Linked DNA regions of Homo sapiens: all the other regions are linked to region 2. Evidence: fine-mapped expression QTL. A gene starts in region 2. Each other region holds a variant in brackets. All regions are shown on one strand. Distances are from middle to middle.

Region 1 (5,101 bases), 45 kb after region 2:
GATACAAATAGAGAGATATCTCATGCTTATGGATAGGAGAATGACAATACTACCCAAGGCAATCTACAGATTCAGTGCTATCTCTACCAAAATACCAATGACATTCCTACAGAACTAGAAAAAAAATCATAAAATTTGTATGGAATCACAAAATATCCCGAATAGCCAAAGCAATCCTGAGCAAAAGGAACAAAGCTGAAGCTATCATCACATTAGCAGACCTCAAAATATACTACAAAGCTGCAGTAACCAAAACAGCAATGGCATGGTACTGGCATAAAAACAGACACATAGACCAATGGAACAGAATGGAGAACCCAGAAATTAATCCACATATCTACAGCCAACTGATTTTTGACAAAGGTGCCAAGAATATTCACTGAGGAAAGGACAGCTTCTTTAATAAATGGTACTGGGAAAACTAGATATTCACATGCAGAAGAATAAAACTAGACCCCTTTCTACTCTATACAAAAATCAACTCAAAATGAATCAAAGATCTAAATGTAAGACCCAAAACTATAAAACTGCTAGAAGAAAACATAGGGTAAATGCTTCAGAACATTGGTCTGAAAAAAAAGATTTTATGAATAAGACCTTGAAATCACAAGCAACAAAAGCAAAAATTAACAAATAGTGTTATATCAAACTAAAAGATTTTTACATGGTGAAGGAAACAATCAAAAGAGTGGTGAGACAACCTATAGAATGGGAGAAAATATCTGCAAACCAATCATCCAAGAAGTGATTAATATCCAGAATATAAAAGAAGCTGCAACATCTCAACAGAAAAAAAAAGATTTAAAAATGGGCAAATGATCTGAATAGACATTTCTCAAAAGAAGACATGCAAATAGACAACAGGTATGTAAAAAAAATGCTCAACATCAAGAATCATCAGGGAGACACAAATCAAAACCACAATGAGATGTCATCTCATCCCAGTTAGGACGGTTATTATCAAAAAGACAAAAAAATAACAAATGGCGGCAAGAGCGCAGATAAAAGGGAACTCTCGTGCACTGTTAGTGGATATGTAAATTAGTACAGCCATCATGGCAAACAGTATGGAGGTTTCTCAAAAACTAAAAATAGAACTACCATATGAACCAGCAATCCCACTGGGTATTTATCCAAAGGAAAAGAAATCAGTATATCAAAGGGATACCTGTACCCCCATGTTTATTGCAGCACTATTCACAATAGCCAAGATATGGAATCAACCTAAGTGTCCATCAATGAATGAAGGGATAAGGAAAATGTGGTATATATACACAATGGAATACTATTCAGCCATAAAAAAGAATGAAATCTTATCATGTGCAGCAACATGGATGGAACTGGAGGTCATTATGACAAGTGAAATAAGCTGGCCATAGAAAGACAAATATTGCATGTTCTCACTCACATGTGGGAGCTTAAAAAGTTGATCTCATGGAGGTAGAGGGTAAAATGATAGTTACCAGATGCTGGGAAGAGTGTGGGGGAAGGGGATGAACAGAGGTTGTTAAGGGGTACAAACATACAATTAGACAGAAGGATCTGATCATCACACACGGGTACCCGATTTGATCATCACACATGGGCACCTGATTTGATAATTACATTACTCAGCAAACGTACACCCTTATTTATGCATTTTGTTGTTTGAAAATATTACCTTAAAAGGAAAAATAACTATAAACAAATGTTTAATGATATGCACGCAGAAGTATTTAAGAAGTGAAATGATGTTTGCAACTGGCTTTGAAATGCATAAAATAGATGGATTGGTGATGGACACAAGGATAATCAATTAAACAAAGATAATAAGTTAATGACAGAATGTAGGTGATTGGTGCATAAATTAAAGAATGAGAATGCCCTTCTCTGAAAGGAAGTAAATCAGTAAAGCCCCATGTATTTCCTGCAGGTCATTAAAAAGAAAGGCTGGATAACCCCATCTCTCACCCTTTATGGTGCCAGGACCACGAAACCTCACACAGGGAGGAGAGCATTTCTCATGTTTTCCTTGACCTCACACCAAGAGGAGTTGGGTTGGAGAGTCGGGGTTTGGGTGATTTTCTCCAAAGCAGGATATCAAGAAATGCCCCCACCCCGTCAACATAGACCAGGCAGTGTGCACAGTGGGCATATGTGACTCTCGACCCATCCCCGGGCAAGAACCCCTGACTAAACGAAGACACGGCCAGCGGCACCCCCAAGGTGAATGCTCCCACATTGCTCCTGGGACCCAGTTGCCAGTGAAAGGGAGTCAAGCAGGTGCATGGGGTGTCGGAGGGTGTTAAGTGGCCCTTTTGGGCTCCTGCTCAACTAGCCGCTGGCCCTCCCTTAGCTCCCTGCTGCCTTGTAGCCCTGACTGCACCTACCCATACAGCCTTGGGATGTTGGGAGTTCCACATTGAATGATGGCAGCCCCGTGCGGGAGCACATTATTTATAAATATGTGGCATTAATTACTTTCTTGTTCCTTGCTGCTTGCATGAGATTCTCAAAGTCATATGTTGAAATTAGTTTGTTAACACCTGGAACATTTCACACTAGAAACTTCCCTT[C/A]CTTTTACCTGATGCAAGAAAACACTCTCCTCAGTGCTACTGATAAGTCCTTGTTCCGCAGGGAGTAGGTGAGGGGTTCAGGGTGGGGCTGACCACTGTGTACAGCACAGCCACCACTCTGCTGTTGTCCATGGATGTGCAGACGATGTCTAAAAGGGCCAGGTTGGTGAGAAAGAAGTACACTGGCGTGTGGAGGCCTGGATTCAGACTGATGGCCATGACCATGAGGATGTTTCCTACAAGTGCCATCAGGTAAAGGAGGAAAAAAGCAAAGCAGCAGCCCTGGAGTGGAAGGTCTTCAGAGAAACCCTGCAGGACAAACGCCTCTACGCTGTGTGGTTGTCTGCTGCCATTAGGAGCGCGAGGCCCTCAGGGGTCACTGGGCACAGCTAGTGCCACCAGCCCAGGAACAGGGTGGCCAGGCGACCTGTCCTCTTGCTCGCCGTCCTGCTGAGACTCTCTGGGACCTGTCCGCTTGCTCGCTGTCCTGCTGAGACTCTCTGGGACCTGTCCTCTTGCTCGCCATCCTGCTGAGACTCTCTGGGACCTGTCCGCTTGCTCGCTGTCCTGCTGAGACTCTCTGGGACCTGTCGGCTTGCTCGCTGTCCTGCTGAGACTCTCTGGGACCTGTCCCCTTGCTCGCTGTCCTGCTGAGACTCTCTGGGACCTGTCCCCTTGCTCGCTGTCCTGCTGAGACTCTCTGGGACCTGTCCGCTTGCTCGCTGTCCTGCTGAGACTCTCTGGGACCTGTCCGCTTGCTCGCTGTCCTGCTGAGACTCTCTGGGACCTGTCCGCTTGCTCGCTGTTCTGCTGAGACTCTCTGGGACCTGTCCCCTTGCTCGCTGTCCTGCTGAGACTCTCTGGGACCTGTCCCCTTGCTCGCTGTCCTGCTGAGACTCTCTGGGACCTGTCCCCTTGCTCGCTGTCCTGCTGAGACTCTCTGGGACCTGTCCCCTTGCTCGCTGTCCTGCTGACACTCTCTGGGACCTGTCCCCTTGCTCGCTGTCCTGCTGAGACGCTCTGGGACCTGTCCGCTTGCTCGCTGTCCTGCTGAGACTCTCTGGGACCTGTCCCCTTGCTCGCTGTCCTGCTGAGACTCTCTGGGACCTGTCCCCTTGCTCGCTGTCCTGCTGAGACTCTCTGGGACCTGTCCCCTTGCTCGCTGTCCTGCTGACACTCTCTGGGACCTGTCCCCTTGCTCGCTGTCCTGCTGAGACGCTCTGGGACCTGTCCGCTTGCTTGCTGTCCTGCTGAGACTCTCTGGGACCTGTCCGCTTGCTCGCTGTCCTGCTGAGACTCTCTGGGACCTGTCCGCTTGCTCGCTGTCCTGCTGACACTCTCTGGGACCTGTCCGCTTGCTCGCTGTCCTGCTGAGACTCTCTGGGACCTGTCCCCTTGCTCGCTGTCCTGCTGACACTCTCTGGGACCTGTCCGCTTGCTCGCTGTCCTGCTGACACTCTCTGGGACCTGTCCGCTTGCTCGCTGTCCTGCTGAGACTCTCTGGGACCTGTCCCCTTGCTCGCTGTCCTGCTGAGACTCTCTGGGACCTGTCCGCTTGCTCGCTGTCCTGCTGACACTCTCTGGGACCTGTCCCCTTGCTCGCTGTCTTGCTGAGACTCTGGGACCTGTCCGCTTGCTCGCTGTCCTGCTGAGACTCTCTGGGACCTGTCGGCTTGCTCGCTGTCCTGCTGAGACTCTCTGGGACCTGTCCCCTTGCTCGCTGTCCTGCTGAGACTCTCTGGGACCTGTCCCCTTGCTCGCTGTCCTGCTGAGACTCTCTGGGACCTGTCCGCTTGCTCGCTGTCCTGCTGAGACTCTCTGGGACCTGTCCCCTTGCTCGCTGTCTTGCTGAGACTCTGGGACCTGTCCGCTTGCTCGCTGTCCTGCTGACACTCTCTGGGACCTGTCCGCTTGCTCGCTGTCCTGCTGAGACTCTCTGGGACCTGTCCCCTTGCTCGCTGTCCTGCTGAGACTCTCTGGGACCTGTCCGCTTGCTCGCTGTCCTGCTGACACTCTCTGGGACCTGTCCCCTTGCTCGCTGTCTTGCTGAGACTCTGGGACCTGTCCGCTTGCTCGCTGTCCTGCTGAGACTCTCTGGGACCTGTCGGCTTGCTCGCTGTCCTGCTGAGACTCTCTGGGACCTGTCCGCTTGCTCGCTGTCCTGCTGAGACTCTCTGGGACCTGTCCGCTTGCTCGCTGTCCTGCTGAGACTCTCTGGGACCTGTCCCCTTGCTCGCTGTCTTGCTGAGACTCTGGGACCTGTCCGCTTGCTTGCTGTCCTGCTGAGACTCTCTGGGACCTGTCGGCTTGCTCGCTGTCCTGCTGAGACTCTCTGGGACCTGTCCGCTTGCTCGCTGTCCTGCTGAGACTCTCTGGGACCTGTCCCCTTGCTCGCTGTCCTGCTGAGACTCTCTGGGACCTGTCCCCTTGCTCGCTGTCCTGCTGAGACTCTCTGGGACCTGTCCCCTTGCTCGCTGTCCTGCTGAGACTCTCTGGGACCTGTCCGCTTGCTCGCTGTCCTGCTGAGACTCTCTGGGACCTGTCCG
Region 2 (5,088 bases):
CACAGCATTGCAAAGGTTTTCTGGAGCCTCGTCATCAAAGTTGACCCAGGAAGAAGTAGAGGCTTCCATGTGGGACACTGTTATTTCTAATCTACTTTGAAACCGCAGGGCAGGCAGGGAGGGAGGAAGGAGAAAGAAGCAGCAGGCCAGGTCTGCAGGCAGGAAGAGGAGAGCCGGCCGGCAGCCGCCGCCTCGCTGAGGTCTGAAGCCAGGAGGCTGGGAGAATGCGCAGATAAAGACGAGCCAGACCTCCAGACCGCAACCCTCCTCTCCCTAGAGAGGGAACAGGCCGCTTTCTGCTTATGCTGAACTCGGGGCTCTGGAGACAGGAAGCGTGGAGGAGACAGCAGAGGTGAGGCTGGGAGATAGGATTTCAGTGGGTCTCTTCCCCCTTCCCGGTCTCAGGACATCCACCCCAGCGGGACATCAGAGACTCCCTCTCTGGAGGTCACCAGCTGCAGCTGAGCAAAGCCCTGAAGCGAGCAGTGTCCGCAGCTTCCGACGCCTCAGCGTGGGTGAGGGGACCTCGGTGGACGAAGCCACCTGTACCCCGGCGGTTGAACAGGAGGGGAAAGCGCTCCCGGGAGGAGCCTGCGGGCCCAGAGGCGGAACGGTGGGGGTGGGGGCGGCGACTCCTGCTCAGAAGCAGCCCCGCCCATCCCCATAAACTCTCCCGCACAGTCGCCGAGAGGCCGGATTCCTGGGCGACTCAGTGCGCCTCGCTCCGCAGGCAACGCGCGGGGGCCATCGCCCTAATCCTGATCTCATCCTTCGGATGCTGTTACTATAATATTACTGTTAGTTTATTATTTGGCCATCGCCGACGTGGCTAGCGCCCGTAACTGTCCCGGGGCGTGTTATGCACCCCCCGCTCCGTGCCAGGGACGCGGACTCACCCCTGTCCCTGTGCGCATGGAACGCGGGGAGGTCGCCTCTGCCCGAGAACTCGTCCTTGTAGTCCAGCAGCGCTTCCTTCACCGCCTTGTAGCCGTGCATCACCACCATGCGCTGCGAGCCCACGTACAGCGTGAACACCGGCCCGAAGCGCTGGGCCAACTGCGGAGACCCGTGGCTAGAAGTCAGGCCCGCCGCGCGGCGAGGAGGTGCGGGGCTCTAAGCCACACCCCTGCCGGGCGGGTATTGCTGTTGCTCTAGAGAACCCAGAGGGACGTGGGGAAAAGCTGTCTTTGTCCAGCCCGAGGTGGGGGAGACCCTCCCCTCAAGAGGCTGCTGCGTCTGCAGGGCGCTCGGGGGGTTCCAGCTGCTCTGCTCCCCACCCGCCTGGACTCCGCGGACAACTCCGCGGCAACTCCGCGGACTCCGGCTCCTCACGTCCCTTCCCTCAGGCGCGCCCACCAACCACCCCGTTGCCCGCTTCCGGAATCAAGGTTCTGGACCCGGTTCTGGCGCGGGAGCCCGAGCTGGAGCAGGCGACCCCCGCCCGCCGTCAGCCTGCGCCCCACAGAGCGCACGCGCAAGAGCGCAAACACCCAGCGCCTGCTCCGTGCTGACGGCGTTATCAGTTCATTTAACGTTTAGGTTTGTTGGCCCATTCAGTGTTCACAACAGTCGTAGGCGGCAGGTATTGGTGCCACACGGGCTGGCCCAACACTTCACGTTTCAACTCGTGCTTTGGCAAACACAGGCGGACGCCCAGCGAGTGCGCATCTGGCCGCCAGCCCGGTTATCCTGGCGTCGCAGCAGCCCGGCCTCGCCGGCCTCCCCATCATCAGCCCCAGGACAAGGCACCGGCGGGGGCCTCCGGGGCCTGGCACGCAGGCTCCGGGCTCCAGCTGCACCACAGGCGACACATTTTGAGTGTCGCTCCAGGATGCTATCAATTCAGGTAATTCACAACAGGCTGGTATTGAACAACCACAATTTGTCTGCAAATGAGTTGAATACACACATACCAGATCCAATTGCTGAGTTATTCTCCCTAAAATCAACACTATTTCTCTTACCCGGGTGAAGGACTTGGGAATATTCTTCAATTCCAACTGGAAGAGGTTCCCGATGATGGGAAGCGGGAAAGGGCCTGGGGGCAGATTCCAGCTGCTGTGCACCTGCCTCCACATGGACACCAGCAGGAGGAAGGCCGCCCACACCAGCAGGGCCACGGTGACTCCGAGGGCAGACATGGTGCCGCTGGGGCCCTGCTGCCAGCCCGGGAGACAATCCTGTGGAAACGGAAGGTTTTTATAATGTGTTCTGAGAAGGAGGGTGACCCACCAACCAATGCCCTCTTGCTACTCGTCTATCCCAAATTACTGGTTTATTATTAGCTGCTGTTGGCCATCGTTTCAAAGGCTGATTCCCGCAATGGTGGCCCCCAGGGGTTCCAGCCAGTGACCTGGTGAGGATGGAGTTGGACTGTGTCAACACCCTGGTTGCTAGCACCTGTCACTGTGCCAGCAAACACATCCAGGAACATGTTGCCAACCCATAGTTAAGAACGTGGGGTGAGGTACCGTCCTGCCCTTTGGCACTGGTTAGACAACGGGGAACTCCAGCCACATCCCCATGCATTTGTTTGGAGTAGGGTTTATGTAATACAACTCCAACCCCATGCCGACCACCTCTAGACACGGTACCGGCCCTCCTGGTGCAACAGCCTCTTGATGTCTGATGAGGAGGTTTGTCTGAGCAGCCCCCAGTAGTACCTGAATCACCACCTGCCACATGAATGGGGCCAGAAGGAAAATTCAACATCGGAATTCGATTCCACTTTCTCAAGTTAACTGGAAAATTCCATGGAAGAAAAATAAAAGGAAAGAGTGAGTCAACCAATTCTGAGAAAGTTAATCTCTGTTTTCATTTTTTTTAAAGGTATATATTCTGGCTGTAGAAAATTAAGAAAAATTGTTCTTTGGAATTATTCCAAATTTAAATTCTTAAAAAATTACATTAGAGTTTTATTGGATTTGTTTTACATTAGGGTAAATTTAGAAGACGATTTTAAAGATATCTTGTCTTTGTTGATCCCGGGACACAATAGAGCTCCACATTGACTAGCTTCTTCTTTCATGTATTAATTATTTTCTTCATACAGACCCTCTTCCACCTTCTATGAAGGTAGTCCATAGGTATTTTGTGGAGCTTTTTTGTGTGTGTGGTTAGAATGAAGAGAATGTTTTTCATTCTGTCTTCTAACTGGCAATATATAGAAGTTCTTAATTCATAGGTTGCAATTTTGTACTTTTATATTAACAATGAATCTTTATGTATAATAGAAAATATGATGAGAAATGAAGAAAATAAAAGTCATTTACAATCCAGCCAAATCACTTGTGGATTTTGAGTTATGCCATTCTATACTTGTATTTATACAAAAATGAGACTACATACTATATATTGCATTCTAACCCAGTTTTTCTCTTGACAATTTATTAGCCACATAAGCAAGTCATTGGTTGTGCTGCACCTAACACTGCACCTCTCCTGAACCAAGAAGGGGCGTTGGCCTCTGGCAGAGGCTTCAGGGGCCTTTGCTTCCCTCTGGTTTTTGGCACCCCTCGAGGTGAGAACTGACAATGTAGACTCGACTGGCTCACGGGTGGGTTAGCCTGCCGCCTCCTCCTCTCTTTCCTTTCCAGTGGCCAGTGTGAGGTGGCAGGGACAATTCCCTGGGCAGAAACAGCTGTCCAGACCCCTGAACCCTGTTGTCCTGTGTGGGCCCAGCCAGGCCTGGCCGGGACAGACACCCATTGGGGTCCACAAGTTTCCTCGATTACTGGTTCCTTCTTCTAGTGCTTGAGAGCAGCAGAGTCAGCTCCCCACAGACTGAAATTGAAGCCTTGGCTTTGGTGGGGTGAGAACAGGAAGCATCAGGGTGGAGAGGCAGAGCAGGCCTCTGGCTCCCCTGGGCTGAGGACACCTTGTCTGTGCAGCTCACCTGAGTGTGCACATCCCAGGCGGGACCCGCGTGCCCTGGAGAGTCTGTGCCTCACAGGGATGCAGCTGTGGTCTGAGTCCTCTGGCCATAATACTGTTAGATGCCCAACCAACATCAAATTTTATATACGGGAACACCTCGTTTGAAAATAATGACATTTCTGTGTGCTTCTTTTCAGAAGCCGGGGCTTTTATTTGTTTTGCATCTGTCCCATTGGCAGGACACTCTAGGACAAGGTGAAATAATCAGGATGACAGAGTGCCTGTGCCTCTGCCCGTGACAAGGTGAAATAATCAGGACGACAGAGTGCCTGTGCCTGTGACAAGGTGAAATAATCAGGACGACAGGGTGCCTGTGCCTGTGACAAGGTGAAATAATCAGGACGACAGGGTGCCTGTGCCTCTGTCCGTGACAAGGTGAAATAATCAGGACGACAGGGTGCCTGTGCCTCTGCCCGTGACAAGGTGAAATAATCAGGACGACAGGGTGCCTGTGCCTCTGCCTGTGCCCGTGGCAGGGTGTTCTTCAGGCTTCCATCACGTCTGCTGTTGGCTGGGTGTGGCAAAGAGGTGACTGTATTGGGACAATTTTCTTCTTTCTCTAGATAACTAACAGTGTTTATCAGGGATGAGAGTTGGGTTAATGAAATCTTTTTTTGATTGAGACAATCCTGTGATTTTTCTCCATAGACCTGCTAGTATGATGCTAGAAGAAAACACTGTCTCACAATGTACCATAAAATTACCATAAATTTTTATATTGTATCATAAAAGTACCTCATAGTTCCACATCACAACCAACTCGTTCATGGAGTGATACTCTTTTAACACCCTAAGGATTCAACTTGTTAATAGTATTTTTAGTAATTTTGCATCTATACCCACAAATAAAATCGGGCTATAATTTTTGTGTTATATTAGGTTCTTGCATAAAAATTGCACTATTCTAGAAATCATTGCAAAACCCCTGTCTTCTCTGTGACTGGGGATACTTTATACTGTAGGGGAATTTTCTGTGCTTCAAAATTTTAATAGAACTCACTAGTAAAGCAATATAGAGAAGATTTACTGGAATTAAATAATTGTTTATAAAGATTAGAAAGATAATTTTAATTGGGGAAGTAAAATATCTCCTTTTAACGAATGCAAACAACACAAAAGTGGGTGAAGTGGAAACTGCGAGTCCCAAATTCA
Region 3 (5,101 bases), 110 kb after region 2:
AGAGCTTTCCAAGTCCTTTGAACTTCAGGTTCACATTCAGGGATCACACAGTTCTGCCTGTTCTCAGGGCACAGCAACTGCCAATCCCGCTGAAGAGGCCTCCCTGGGCACAGCACAGGCTGCACGGTGCACGCATTTCCCTGAAGGCAGCCCCTTCTTCGGAAGCAGCTGTTCCAGGCCTCGGAACAGGGCCTGGGTATCCGCGTGGTGGGCTGGCAGCTGACGGCCTGCTCAGTGGAGCCAGGAGCTAACTCAGACCCCAAAGCAAGCAGGGGGCCAGTGGCGGGGCCCAGCGCCCAGCAGGACACCCATGCAAGAGGCTGAGCCCCCCAACATCCAAGGACAGGAGAGACATGGAGTGGCGCTGGACAGTCACGACAAGGACTTGCCTCCAGCACTGGACACACCTGTGTTAAGACCAGCCCTCTGCTTCCCAGTCCCGCCAGCCTGGGGCATCCTCCATGGGCTCAGCACTGAGAGGTCTTGGGTCTGCCACGTTCTCTAGCTCTCCAGTCACCCACTCATCCAGGGTAGGAGGGGTTCTCCCTGCCCCCCGCCGTGGCCTTGGGATCTCACCCTCTCCATGTCCTGGGGACAGCCTCGCCCTCAGCCGGACTGCATCCCTCCTGGGCCTGAGCCTCGGGACTCAGTGGACACCAAAGTCAAGACCAGCACCCACCACGGGCCCTGCCAGCCTCTGCCTTCCCCAGCTGGCCTGGGTTCTGGCCTGGGTGAGGATCTGGAAGCTGTTGGCAGGACTCAACCAAGCACTGCTCTCTAGCTCCAGGGCACTAAGCCACAGGAGGCAGCGCCCTGCAGCCTCCCGTCCACACTGCCAGCAATGCCCCTGGCCCAGTGAGCCCAGACGCTCCTCCACCCCTTCCAGACCAAGCTCAACGCCTCCAAGACCAGCAGGCCAAGGCCAAGCCCTGCCCCAGATCCTCATAGGCAGAGAAGCCCTTCTGACATTTCCCCCAGGAGGCAGGGGGTGGTCTGAGTCTCCTCACAGCAGAGAGACCCACCGGAGCCCCCTCAACTTTGCAGATGCCCACCTGGAAAATGGGCTGAGCTGCACCAGACCCTCACACACCACAGCACTGCAAGCTGATGGAATGTTCCAGTTATGATGGACACTTCGTGATCTGCAATGACTGTTGATTCAGCACATTAGCATCTGACACAGCCAACCTGAATACTTCCTGCCCCAGGCGGTCAGGGTTATGGCACGATGCAGGTGGCACTCAGGGGCTAACTTCAGGCTGATGAGTGTGTGGGGTATGGGGCAGCAGAGGCAGCCAGCCAGCAAAGAGGGGCCACTGAGCACCAGGGCCCTGGTGGAGGCTGCTGTGGGACGGTCAGGCCACCACCGCAAAGAGGCAGCCGGAGCTTCTGCACAGGATGTCCCTGGCCCCAGGTCCTGCAGCACCTTAGTCCATACTACCAGCCCCACCCACCTTCCTTCCTCTTCCCTCTTCTAGGACACAGGCTGTGGACCCCTTCAGGTGCACTATAATGGGGCTGGAGGGGCCCCCACATCTCTCAGCCCCACTAATGCAGAATCCCACTACCCGTGAGCTAGAAGGTGCTCAGAGGCCAGGGGTCTCTACTGCCCATGCCGGGCGGCCTTCCAGTCATTGCACAGCAAAGCCATGTGCAGGGCGTCCCCCTCAACCCTGCCCTGAACATGCCCCAGGGCACTGAGGGGCGAAGCCAGTGCTTGGGCTCTGCTGCTGGGAGTCTCTGGTCTGTGTCTGTGTGTGCCTGTAAGTGTGAAATAAACCTCTCTGATGGCAGCAAGCCTCTCACTTGTTGTAGGACTGCAAGACACTGGACCGAAAGCCTCCAACACAAACCCTAGCTGCCAACCTGCTCATTTCTTAGGTTTCACTGGTGAGAGCAGCTTTAACACACAGGCCCAAGGCACTACGGTGCACCTCACAGGCCAGTAAGAAACAGGCCCTTTAACTGGAGATTTTAAAGGTTACAGGTTATAGCTTTAACTCCTTCTGAGACAGCATCCATTTCTCAAGAGGCCTGAGCAGGAAGCTCCGGGAGAACCAAGCATGCGGAGCTGCTCAGGGACGTCCAC[T/A]GGGAAGCCTGGTGTCCACTCCCACCTGCTTGGGCCCTGCAACTGGGGTCCCTGGAGCTGGCCAGGCTGTGGGGCGCCAGAGAGCACAGCACCCTAGTGACCAGCATGGAGCTTCTGGACCGGGTGAGCTGTCTTGAGCCTCAACCACCCAGGTCAGGAGGTCTGGGAGGCCACATGCCTCCGGCCCTCCCTACCCGGACAAGTTCAGGGCAAAGTCTCAGCCGGGGGGTGGCCCCGCAGGACGTCGAGGTCCAGCATCACGGAACCCAGCAGCCCACGGCGGAAAGTCTGCAGGAAGTCACGGGCTGCCGCAGGATAGTTAGGCTGAATAATGTTCACGTTACCTGGGGGACGGGAGGGTTCAGTGAGGAAGGAGCCTTCACAGCAGGACAGGCCCAGCCCTTACCCACCTGAGGGACCAGCCCTAAGAGGCTCCATGATGGCATCAGGGAAGCCCAGGGAACGGGATCACACTCAGAAAGAAAACAGCTTGAGCTACGCTGCCCGGAGCCTCCAAGGCCAGGCATGTGAGGCCTGCAGGTGTCCACCTAGCACTGCCCAATACGCGGCAGGGCTGGTCTCACCCTCGGAAGCCTGGACTACAAGCCCTTCCTCTCCAGAACTTTCTGTAGCTCCCCTGCCCTGAAACCCATTCCCAGAAGACCCGGCGCATGCTCCTTGACACGTTCCTCTCCTCCCTGCCTCCTCCAGGGATGGCCGGGGTCCCCCAGGGTGATGGGGTGAGGCTCCGGTGCCCGCATCAGCGACCTCACTCACCCGTGCCCGTGAGCACCTTCACCTTCTGCGTCTTCCCCAGCTTCACAGCCACACTCTTCAGCACGCGCTCTACGTTGTCACAGGCACTGCCCAGGCCGTAGTGCTGCACGTACCTGCACATAGGCTGCAGGTCAGCACCAGGGGGCCCAGCACTGACACCGCGCGGCCAGCCAGGCCGGGCCCTTCCTCCTGAATGCCACAAAGGCCACGGCCAGGCACCTCCTGTGGGTGACAGTGACTGCGGCGCTGTGGATGACCAAGATGAGACTGCAGGTGACCGGTGCTGGGCCCCGGGGGAGAGCCACTATCTAAGAATCATCCCTGAGCTTCGTCCTGTGTGGCCACGGCCAGCAGCATGGGGGGCGGCTCCCACCACCGGAGCCCTTGCCGCAGCGGGAGGAGTAACAGCTGTTCACACACACAGGCTTCATCCACTCTATCCGGGGTAGGACAGGCAGGCCTCTGTGCAGGCCCAGGTCCTGGAAACTAAAAGAGGAGCACAGCAGACCATCTGCAAACATACTCTGTTTGCTGCTAAGGATGGCACTCGGTAACTTCCAGGCAGCCAGTACACCTGCATCCTCTCCACCCGGCTGGGTGTTTGAGCGGTGTTTTCCTAGCACAGGGACCAGCATGGGCTGACTAGGCACCCACCGCTGCTAAGCGTCACCCAGTGATTGTAACGGGCACTCTGACTCCTCACAGTGCAGGCTCTGGGCAGAGAGGCCTGGAGGGAAAGGCCAGCACAGAGCAGCCACTCACAGGGACAAACACCACCCTAAGCCTTGGGAGCCCGACTAACCCAGACCCAACACTCTCCCAACCTTCCTGACAGCCAGGGGTGAGGGGAACCTGTCTCGTGGCTCCCACGAGGGCAGGCTCAACCTTGAGGAGGCTGGTGCCCTCGGACCTGGTCACAGCATGAGCCGGTAACAGAGGACTCACCCCAAGGCCCAGCAAAGCAAGACATGAGCTCAGAGCCCATAGGAGCATCAGAACCCTGAGTAACACAGGTTCTAAATCTAACTTCTCGGAGGCACCAAGCATGAGCTCTGAATCAGCAGCCTCAAGGGTGCCCTGGTGCTCCAAAAAAGCTGTCCCAGGAGAGAGGAGCAAGCCTGGAGGAGGCGCCCCGGACCACCCCCGAGACCTGCCAATGGGAAGAACTCCTGAAAGGACCGGACTGTTTCCAATAATCTAACTGTCCCACAACAAAGCTCAAGAATTTTTACAGGAATGTAGATATCCATCACCTAACAAGGTGAAACTCAAAATACATGGCATCCAGCCAGGCATGGTGGCTCACGCCTGTAATCCCAGAACTTTGGGAGGCCAAGGTGGACGGATCACTTGAGGTCAGGAGTTCGACACCAGCCTGTTCACCAATATGGTGAAACCCTGTCTCTACTAAAAATACAAAAATTAGCCAGGTGTGGTGGCACATGCTTGTAATCCCAGCTACTTGGGAGGCTAAGGCGGGAGAATCGCTTGAACCCAGGAGGTGGAGGCTGCAGTGGGCTGAGATTGTGCCACTGCACTGTAGCCTGGCTGGGCGACAGAGTGAGATGCCATCTCAAAAAAAAGAAAAAAAGAAAGTCATTGGTAGCTTGATGGGGATGGCATTGAATCTATAAATTACCTTGGGCAGTATGGCCATTTTCACAATATTGATTCTTCCTACCAATGAGCATGGAATGTTCTTCCATTTGTTTGTATTCTCTTTTATTTCATTGAGCAGTGGTTTGTAGTTCTCCTTGAAGAGGTCCTTCACGTCCCTTGTAAGTTGGATTCCTAGGTATTTTATTCTCTTTGAAGCAATTGTGAATGGGAGTTCACTCATGATTTGGCTGTTTGTCTGTTATTGGTGTATAAGAATGCTGGTGATTTTTGTACATTGATTTTGTATCCTGAGACTTTGCTGAAGTTGCTTATCAGCTTAAGGAGATTTTGGGCTGAGACAATGGGGTTTTCTAGATATACAATCATGTCATCTGCAAACAGGGACAATTTGATTTCCTCTTTTCCTAATTGAATACCCTTTATTTCCTTCTCCTGCCTAACTGCCCTGGCCAGAACTTCCAACACTATGTTGAATAGGAGTGGTGAGAGAGGGCATCCCTGTCTTGTGCCAGTTTTCAAAGGGAATGCTTCCAGTTTTTGCCCATTCAGTATGATATTGGCTGTGGGTTTGTCATAGATAGCTCTTATTATTTTGAGATACGTCCCATCAATACC
Region 4 (5,101 bases), 30 kb after region 2:
ATTATCTGGCTTTGTGTCATAATCTTATTCAGAGAGAACTTGATCGCTTTTTGCCTCCAAAAGATATCACACTGGTCCATTACATTGATGACATTATGCAGATTGGATCCAGTGAGCAAGAAGTAGCAAACACTGGACTTATTGGTGAAACATTTGCATGCCAGAGGATGGGAAGTGTATCTGCCTAAAATTCAGGGACCTTCTACCTCAGTAAAATTTCTAAGGGTCCAGTGGTATGGGGCCTGTAGAGATATTCCTCCTAAGGTGAAGGATAAGTTGCTGCATTTGGCCCCTCCTACAACCAAGAAAGAGGCACAATGCCTAGTGGGCCTATTTGGATTTTGGAGGCAACACATTCCTCATTTGGGTGTGTTACTCCAGCCCATTTATTGAGTGACCTGAAAAGCTGTCAGTTTTGAGTGGAGTCCAGAACAAGAGAAGGCTCTGCAGCAGGTCCAGGCTGCTGTGCAAGCTGCTCTGCCACTTGGGCCATATGGCCCAGCATATCCAATGGTGCTTGAGGTGTCAGTGGCAGATAGGCATGCTGTTTGGAGCCTTTGGCAGGCTCCCATAGGTGAATCACAGTGGAGGCCTCTAGGATTTTGGAGCGAGGCCCTGCCATCTTCTGCAGATAACTACTCTCCTTTTGAGAGACAGCTCTTAGCCTGTTACTGGGCTTTGGTGGAAACTGAACGTTTGACTGTAGGTCACCAAGTCACCACGCGACCTGAACTGCCTATCATAAACTGGGTGCTTTCTGACCCATCTAGCCATTAAGTGGGTTGTGCACAGCAGCATTCCGTCATCAAATGGAAGTGGCACTAGGGAAATGACCACAGGATGGAAGTGGTATATATGTGATCAGGTTCCAGCAGGTCCTGAAGGCACAAGTAAGTTACATGAGGAAGTGGTTCAAATGCCCATGGTCTCCACTCCTGCCACCCTTCCTTCTCTCCCCGAGCCTGCCCCAACGGCCTCATGGGAAGTTCCCTATAATTAGTTGGGCCTGGTTCGTGGATGGTTCCGCATGATATGCAGGCACCACCCAAAAGTGGAGAGCTGCAGCACTACAGCCCCTTTCTAGGACATCCCTGAAGGACAGTAGGGAAGGAAAATCTTCCCAGTGGGCAGAACTAAGAGCAGTGAACCTGGTTGTGCACTTTGCATGGAAGGAGAAATGGCCAGATGTGTGATTATATACTGATTCATGGGCTGTAGTTAATGGTTTGGTTGGATGGTCAGGGACTTGAAAGAAGAATGATCGGAAATTGTGACAAAGAAATGTGGGGAAGAGGTATGTGGATGGACCTCTCTGAGTGGTCAAAAACTGTGAAGATATTTGTATCCCATGTGAGTGCTCACCAATGGGTGACCTCAGCAGAGGAGGATTTTAATAATCAAGTGGATAGGATGACCACTTCTGTGGACACCATTCAGCCTCTTTCCCAAGCACCTCTGTCATTGCCCAATGGACCCGTGAACAAAGTGGCCATGGTGGCAGGGATGGAGGTTATGAATGGGCTCAGCAATATGAGCTTCCACTCACCAAGGCTGATCTGGCTATGGCCACTGCTGAGTGCCCAATTTGCCAGCAGCAGAGACCAACACTGATTCCTCGATATGGCACCATTTCTCAGGGTGGTCAGCCAGCTACCTGGTGGCAGGTTGATTATATTGAACCTCTTCCATCATGGAAAGGGCAGAGATTTGTCCTCACTGGAATAGATACTTATTCTGGATATCGGTTTGCCTATCCTGCACACGATACTTCTACCAAGACTACCATCTGTGGACTCATGGAATGCCTTATCCACCATCATGGTGTTCCACACAGTATTGCCTCTGACCAAGGTACTCACTTTACGGCCATAGAAGTGCAGCAGTGGGCTCATGTTCGTGGAATTCACTGGTCTTACCACGTTGCCCATCATCCTGAAGCAGCTGGATTGATAGAACGGTGGAATGGCCTTTCAAAGTCACAATTGCTGTGGGTGGCAAGCCACCCAGGTGCCAAGGCAAGAGACCGAGGACACGAGCTGTTCCAGTATAATAAAATATAAAATAAGAATAGTTATACCAGAGATAGATCTTAGATATGATTATATATGAATATCATTAATCATTAGTAGCAATTACTCTTTATTCCAATATTATAATAATCCTCACTCTATAATCATAAACTAGGAAAAACCAGGCCATACAGAGATAGGAGCTGAAGGGACATAGTGAGAAGTGACCAGAAGACAAGAGTGTGAGCCTTCTGTTATGCCCAGACAGGGCCACCAGAGGGCTCCTTGGTCTAGCGGTAACGCCAGCATCTGGGAAGATGCCCATTGCCAAGCAGACCGTGGTCTAGCAGTAGCGTT[A/G]GTGTCAAGGAAAAACACCCGCTACTTAGCAGACCGGGAAAGAGAGTCTCCCTTTCCCCAGGGGAGTTTAGAGAAGACTCTACTCCTCCACCTCTTGTGGAAGGCCTGACATTAGTCAGGCCCACCCACAGTTATTCGGAGGCCTAACCGTCTCCCTGTGATGCTGTGCTTCAGTGGTCACACTCCTAGTCTGCCTTCATGTTCCATCTTGTACACCTGGTTCTGCCGTTTAGTTAGCAGTAGCAAATTAGTGAAAGTACTAAAAGTCTCTGATAAGCAGAAATAATGGTGTAAGCTGTTTCTCTTTCTCCTCTCTCTCTCTGCCTCGGCTGCCAGGCAGGAAAGGGCCCCCTGTCCAGGGGACATGTGATCCATGTGGCCTTCCCTATCATTGGAGATGGCCCACACTCCTTATCCTGCCCCTTTGTCTTGTATCCAATAAATATCAGTGCAGCCTGGCATTCGGGGCCACTACCAGTCTCCGCATCTTGGTGGTAGTGGTCCCCCGGGCCCAGCTGTCTTTTCTTTTATCTCTTTGTCTTGTGTTTTTATTTCTACGCTCTCTCGTCTCCACACAGAAGGAGAAAATGCACCAACCCTGTGGGGCTGGACCCTACAATTACCATGTCAATTAGATGACAATACTTTGCAGGGCTGGGGCAAAGTACTCTAGAAGGCTGTGTATGCACTGGATCAGCATCTGATATATGGTACTGTTTCTCCCATAGCCAGGATTCACGGGTCCAGGAATCAAGGGGTGGAAGTGGAAGTGGCACCACTCACCATCACCCCTAATGATCCAGTAGCAAAATTTTTGCTTCCTGTTCCTGCAACATTACGTTCTGCTAGCCTAGAGATCTTAGTTCCAGAGGGAGTAACACTGCCACCAGGAGACACAACAACAATTCCATTAAACTGAAAGTTAAGATTGTCACCTGGACACTTCGGGCTCCTCCTACCTTTAAGTAAACAGGCTAAGAAGGGAGTTACAGTGTTGGCTAGGTTGATTGACCCAGACTATCAAGATGAAATCAGTCTACTACTCCATAACAGAGGTAAGGAGGAGCATGCATGGAATACAGGAGATCCATTAGGATGTCACTTAGTATTACCATGCCCTGTGATTAAGGTCAATGAGAAACTACAACAGCCCAATCCAGGGAGGACTACAAATGGTCCAGACCCTTCAGGAATGAAGGTTTAAGTCACTCCACCAGGAAAAAAACCTTGATCTGATGAGGTGCTTGCAGAAGGCAAAGGGAATACACAGTGGGTGATAGAAGAAGGTAGTCATCAATACCAGCTACGACCACATGACCAGCTGCAGAAATAAGGACTGTAAAAAGTATTAACCCTAGGTGAGTCTGTGTGGGTGTTGCCAAAGGAGATTTGAGTCAGTGGGCTGGGGAAGGCAGACCCACCCTTAATCAGGTGGACACCATCTAATGAGCTTCCAGCAAATATAAAGCAGGCAGAAAAACATGAAAAGGCAAGACTGGCTTAGCCTTCCAGCCTACATTTTTCTCCCATGCTGGATGCTTCCTGCCCTCAAACATCAGACTCCAAGTTCTTCAGTTTTGGGACTTGGACTGGCTCTCCTTGGTCCTCAGCTTGCAGACAGCCTATTGTGGGGACCTCGTGATCATGTTAGTTAATATTTAATAAACTCCCATTTACATATATACATATATATATACATATATAATATTTATCCTATTAGTTCTGTCCCTCTAGAGAACCCTGACTAATACAGATTTTGGTACCAGGAGTGGGCTGTTGTGTTGCTGAAAAGATACCCAAAAATGTGGAATTGACTTTGGAATTGGGTAACAGGCAGAGGTTGGAACAATTTGGAGGGCTCAGAAGAAGATAAGAAAATGTGGGAAAGTTTGGAACTTCCTAGAGACTTTGCCCAAAATGCTGATAGCAATATGGACAATAAAGTCCAGGCTGAGGTGATCTCAAATGGAAATTAGGAACTTGTTGGGAAGTGGAGCAAAGGTGACTCTTGTTATGTTTAACAAAGGGACTGGCAGCATTTTTCCCCTGCCCTACAGACCTGTGGAACTTTGAACCAGAGAGAGATGATTTAGGGTATCAGGTGGAAGAAATTTCTAAGCAGCAAACATTCAAGAGGTGATTCAGGTGCTGTTAAAGGCATCCCATTTTATAAGGAAAGCACAGCATAGAAGTTTGGAAAATTTGCAGCCTGACAATGCAATAGAAAAAGAAAATCCCATTTTCTGGGGAGAAATTTAAGCCAGCTGCAGAAATTTGCATAAGTAACGAGGAGCAGAATGTTAACTCACAAGACAATGGGGAAAAGACATGCCTCTCCAGGGCATGTCAGAGGTCTTCACAGCAGCCCTTCTCATCACAGGCCTGGAGGTGTACAAGATAAAAATGGCTTCCTGGGCTAGGCCCAGGGTCCCCATGCTGTGTACAGCCAAGGGACTTGGTGTCCTGTGTCCCAGCTGCCCCTAGCCATGACTAAAAGGGACCAAGGTAAAGCTCCAGCCATGGCTTCAGAGGGTGCAAGCCCTAAGCCTTAGCACCTTCCACATGGTGTTGAGCCTGTGGGTACACAGAAGTCAAGAATTGAGGTTTGGGCACCTCCGCCTAGATTTCAGAAGATGTATGGAAATGCCTGGATGCCCAGGCAAAAGTTTGTTGCAAGCGCAAGGCCTTCATAGAGAACCTCTGCCACAGCAGTGCAGAAGGGAAATGTGGGGTCA
Region 5 (5,101 bases), 56 kb after region 2:
AAGGGGGAGCAGGTGCCTCACATGGCAAAAGAGGAACAAGAAAGAGGGGGAGACACCACACTCAATGACCAAATCTCAGGAGGGAGATGCCACACTCAACTGAACACATCTCAGGACGGAGACGCCACACTCAACAACTTACATCCCAGGAGGGAGACGCCACACTTTCCACTGACCAGATCTCAGGAGGGAGACACCATACTCAATGACCAGATCTCAGGAGGGAGACGCCACACTCAACGACCAGATCTCAGGAGGGAGACGCCACACTCAACGACCAGATCTCAGGAGGGAGACGCCACACTTTCCACTGACCAGATCTCAGGAGGGAGACGCCACACTTTCAACTGACCAGATCTCAGGAGGGAGACGCCACACTTTCCACTGACCAGATCTCAGGAGGGAGACGCCACACTTTCAACTGACCAGATCTCAGAAGGGAGACGCCACACTCAACGACCAGATCTCAGGAGGGAGACGCCACACTCAACTGACCAGACCTCAGGAGGGAGACGCCACACTCAACTGACCAGATCTCAGGAGGGAGACGCCACACTCAACTGACCAGATCTCAGGAGGGAGACGCCACACTCAACTGACCAGACCTCAGGAGGGAGACGCCACACTCAACTGACCAGACCTCAGGAGGGAGACGCCACACTCAACTGACCAGATCTCAGGAGGGAGACGCCACACTCAATGACCAGATCTCAGGACGGAGACGCCACACTTTCAACTGACCAGATCTCAGGAGGGAGATGCCACACTCAACTGACCAGACCTCAGGAGGGAGACGCCACACTCAACGACTAGATCTCAGGAGGGAGACGCCGCACTCAACAACCAGATCTCAGGAGGGAGACACCACATTCATCACCGTCTAATAATTTTGCTAAAATTCTCATTTTTTCTACATACTATTCTTTTCAGTAAAGTTAATTCATTATGTGTATAATTACTAAGCTAATATCTTTAATTTTTTAAGACTTTACACAAATAAACTCATAAGTAAGGAGCCCTCCTTTGTCAGCTCACACAGGCTGGTGATGGTTTAGGCAGTCACTCACCATCATCCTATCCAATCTGCTGCTAACCCAGAAGTTCCAACTGTGCTGATTTTGCCCCCAGGAAACATTTGGTGACGTCTGGAGACATTTTTTTATTGTCACAACTGGAAGGGGGCTGCCACTGGTGCCTGGTGGGTGGAGGCCAGGGATGCTGCTCAGCACCTGTGATGCACAGGATGGCCCCACGCAGAGAACAACCCAGCCCCAAGGTCAGTAGCGCCAAGGCTGGGGGCTGCTCTGCTGGCACGTGGACTCTTAACACTGAATTGTCATAGCAAATGCATTCTCTCCCCAACTCTCCAGCCCCACACGGCTGGGGCAGACACACCTCCCTCTGCCATTTTCCTCTCCAGGACACCTCTTCCCACAGGCCTGGGTGCCTTTGATACTTCCTAAGAGCCAGAGCCTCCCAGTCTCCCAGACTTTGCTCCTGCCCCACAGCCTCTTGGGCAACATCTGAGCCGCCAGCCCACCAAGAGCAAAGATCAGCAATGGCCCAAAGTACAATGGGGGCCGCTGTCAGGGTGGGGTCCCCTGTGTGCCCAATGGGACACCTGGCTCAGCTCTGTGAGTCTTGTGGGGAGACAGCCCAGAGGGAGGAAGGTGCTTAGTGTGGCCTGGCCCCCAAGCCCACATCTGGACCTGGCTGAGGCCATCCTGCAGGACTTGATTGAACACTTTCTTCCTGTGTTCCTGCTGTGGGGAGGACCCCTCAGTACCAGGGCCACAGTTGGAAAGGACCACCCCAGGGGAGCTCATGAGAATGCTCAAAACTCAAACAACCCAATAAAGCATGAGCAAAAATGTTGAACAGACACTTCAACAGAGTACATATACAGATGGCAAATAAACACATGAAAAGGTGTTCAATATCATTAGTCCTTAGGTAAATGCAAATTAAAACCACAAGGACACAGCACCATATACCTGTTAGAATGTCAAACGTTATCAACCGAGTGTTGGAACCTTGTGGAGGAAGCAGAACACTCAGAGATTACTGGGGAGATGTAACATGATGCAGCCACTCCAGAAAGGTTGGTAGAATGTTAAACTTGCACGTACCTTACAATCGTTCCATTCCTAGGTAGCCAAGAGAAATGAAAGCACGAGTCCATATGACGACTGGTACATGAATATTTGTAGCAGCTTTTTTTGCAATAGCTGGAAGCTTTAAGCAATGCAAATGTCCATCAAGTGAACAGGTAAACAGCACAATGGAGCGCTATTTGCCAAGAGGAAGAAATGAACTATGGTTTCTCACCACATGGATGAATCGCAAGTAATTGTGCTGAGCGAAAAAAGCCAGACTCTCATCCCCGAAAAAAGAGTACATACTATATAATCCATTTACATAAAATTAAAATAGTGCAAACTAGTCTACAGTGTCAGAAAGCTGAACTTTATCACCTGAGGGGCAGGACACAGGAAGGGACAGGACAGATGTTCAAACATACATGAAAAACGTTGGGGGCGATGGATGCGTCCATTCTCATAGA[C/T]GCTGCGATCCTTTCAGGGGTGTACGTGCATGTCAAAACTTATTGCAATGTATTCTTTAAATATGTGAAGTTTATTATATGCTAATTATACCCCCATAAACCTATTAAAACAAAATCACAACATATCAAAACTCTTGGAATGCAGCCAAAGCCATGCTAAAAGGGAAAGTTATAACCTAAAATATATGCATTAAAAAAGAAAAAATGCTGAATATCAACAATCTGAATGTCCATATAAAAAAGCTAGAATAAGCAGAAGGAAATCACAAAGATGAGAACAGAAATAAACGAATTAGAAGGCAGATGTTCACCAAGAAAAATCAAGAAAACCAAAGGCACAAGCTCCACGTGCCTTGGAAAGACTAATGAGATGAAGCCGCCAGCAGCACCGGTCAAGAACAGCAGAGTGCCCAGAGTCCCAGCTGTGCGGGGGGCTGTGAGGGAGGATCGCTAGAGCCCAGGAGTTTGAGTCTGGTGTGGGCAACACAGTGAGACCTTGGTCTCGAAAAAAAAAAAAAAAAAGGAGAGAAGACACAAATTGCCACTATCAGGATTGAAAAATGCACATGACTACAGATTTTGTAGACATTAAGGCTAGTAGAAAGATACTATTAACAAATTTATATGGAAAAACTTGAAAATTTAGATTAAATGTACCAATTCATTTTTTAAAAGGACTGAACAAAGCAGATCTAATAGGAAATAGAGAATCTGAATACTTCAACTATTTATTTTAAAAAATTAAATCTGGAAAAAAAAAACCTCACTAAAGAGGAAACTCCAAGCCTAGAGAGCTTTACTAGTGAGTTCTTCCAACATTTAAGAAGAAATAAAACCAATGCTACATAAACTCTTGCAAATTTTTTTAAATTATTCTTTAAGTTCTGGGGTACCTGTGCAGAATGTGCAGGTTTGTTACATAGGTATACACGTGTCGTGGTGGTTTGCTGCACCCATCAACCCGTCATCTACCTTAGGTGTTTCTCCTCATGCTATCCCTTCCCTAGCCCCCCACCCCCTGACAGGCCCCAGTGTGTGATGTTCCCCTCCCCGTGTCCATGTGTTCTCATTGTTCAACTCCCACTTATGAGTGAGAACATGCAGTGTTTGGTTTTCTGTTCCAGTGTTAGTTTGCTGAGAATGATGTTTTCCAGCTTCATCCACGTCCCTGCAAAGGACATGAATTCATCCTTTTTTCTGGCTGCATAATATTCCATGGTGTATATGTGCCACATTTTCTTTATCCAGTCTATCATTGATAGGTCATCAGAGTGAACAGGCAACCTACGGGATGGGAGAAAATTTTTGCAATCTATCCATCTGACAAAGGGCTAATGTCCAGAATCTACAAGGAACTTAAACAAATTTACAAGGTAAAAGCAAACAACCCCATCAAAAAGTGGGTGAAGGATATGAACAGACACTTCTCAAAAGAAGACATTTATGCAGCCAACAAACATATGAAAAAAAGTTCATCATCACTGGTCATTAGAGAAATGCAAATCAAAACCACAATGAGATATCATCTCATGCCAGTTAGAATGGCGATTATTAAAAAGTCAGGAAACAACAGATGCTGGAGAGGATGTGGAGAAATAAGAACACTTTTACACTGTTGGTGGGAGTGTAAATTAGCAAATATTTTTTAAAAGAGAATATACTCCTAACTCTTATGAGACCTGAATAATCCTCATACCAAAAATTAAACAGAAATACTACAATAAAAGAAAAAAATTACACATCATTTTCTTTTTTAAACATTGACCCAACATATTACCAAACTAATTCCTGTGAAATACAAAAAGAATAATATATCATGATAAAGGTAAGTTTGTTTAACCCATGGTTAATTTAACATATGAAAATCAATCATCTATCATCTTAATAGATACAAAAAAGAATTTGATAAAAGTCAACACTTATGATAAAAAGCAAAACCCTTAACAAATTAGGTATAGACTGGGCTTTCCTTGATCTGATAAATAGCATCTACAAAACTGAACATCAAATATTATATTTCATAGTGAAATTAAATGTGGAACACATTTGCTCTGAGTCCTTGAATGAGACAAGACCTCCACTGGCTGCCTCTCTTCAACACTGGACTGAAGGGTCCCAGCCCCCGAAATAAGGCACAGAAAAAGAGATTAAATGTACACGGATTGGAAGGAGAAGATAAATCTGAATATTCACAGATGACATGATTACACAAGTAGAACATTTAAAAGATACTTTGGATTCAATTAAGAAGAGTTTTTAAGAAAAAAGAGGAAGGTTCTGGCATGGGGAGCTCTGCAACCCACTGCTGGGTGCCAGAAGCGAGCTGTGGAGCGGAAGATGAAGATGGCACCATGTGTCTCTAAACCACAAATGGAACCACTGATTTCTATGTGTATTTGCATTTGCTGTAATGTGTGGGAAATCTGAAGGTTACACAGCACAACTGTCCACAGCAGATGGCCCTCGAAGGGGATGAGGTTTAGAGCCAGGCAGGGCCTGGAAGGACTGGATTTTACATGGACATGGAGGACATTGCAA

Evidence for each region. PIP is the estimated chance that this variant, and not a neighbour inherited with it, causes the effect.
Region 1: its variant is fine-mapped to the expression of CYP2E1 in atrial appendage (GTEx, PIP 0.99).
Region 3: its variant is fine-mapped to the expression of CYP2E1 in whole blood (TOPMed, PIP above 0.99).
Region 4: its variant is fine-mapped to the expression of CYP2E1 in whole blood (TOPMed, PIP 0.98).
Region 5: its variant is fine-mapped to the expression of CYP2E1 in whole blood (TOPMed, PIP above 0.99).

The regions. Positions count from the first base shown.
Region 1 is chr10:133,479,028-133,484,128 of GRCh38, reverse strand. It overlaps the pseudogene OR7M1P. Among named protein-coding and RNA genes, the nearest start is that of SCART1, 28 kb to the right of the region's middle. The variant C/A (reference allele first, on the strand shown) is at 2,556.
Region 2 is chr10:133,524,449-133,529,536 of GRCh38, reverse strand. CYP2E1 (cytochrome P450 family 2 subfamily E member 1) reads right to left here and starts at 2,174. Exons shown (of 9, transcript NM_000773.4): 1 at 1,965-2,174; 2 at 897-1,056. The coding sequence starts at 2,141. LOC105378575 (a long non-coding RNA gene) reads left to right here and starts at 2,578. Exons shown (of 5, transcript XR_946512.3): 1 at 2,578-2,777; 2 at 3,394-5,088. RefSeq lists cis regulatory regions at 2,471-2,495, 3,721-3,727, promoters at 2,167-2,720, 2,079-3,536, 2,167-5,088 and enhancers at 2,721-2,848, 3,137-3,549.
Region 3 is chr10:133,417,358-133,422,458 of GRCh38, reverse strand. MTG1 (mitochondrial ribosome associated GTPase 1) reads right to left here. Exons shown (of 11, transcript NM_138384.4): 10 at 2,867-2,979; 11 at 1-2,433. The coding sequence ends at 2,294. It overlaps SPRN (shadow of prion protein), which reads left to right. Exons shown (of 2, transcript NM_001391974.1): 2 at 1-1,793. Among named protein-coding and RNA genes, the nearest start is that of SPRN, 4.7 kb to the left of the region's middle. The variant T/A (reference allele first, on the strand shown) is at 2,090.
Region 4 is chr10:133,494,764-133,499,864 of GRCh38, reverse strand. All of the region lies in intron 4 of LOC105378575 (a long non-coding RNA gene), which reads left to right. Among named protein-coding and RNA genes, the nearest start is that of CYP2E1, 30 kb to the left of the region's middle. RefSeq lists a silencer at 2,263-2,342. The variant A/G (reference allele first, on the strand shown) is at 2,367.
Region 5 is chr10:133,468,074-133,473,174 of GRCh38, reverse strand. SCART1 (scavenger receptor family member expressed on T cells 1) reads right to left here. Exons shown (of 12, transcript NM_001396050.1): 12 at 3,415-5,101. Among named protein-coding and RNA genes, the nearest start is that of SCART1, 17 kb to the right of the region's middle. The variant C/T (reference allele first, on the strand shown) is at 2,564.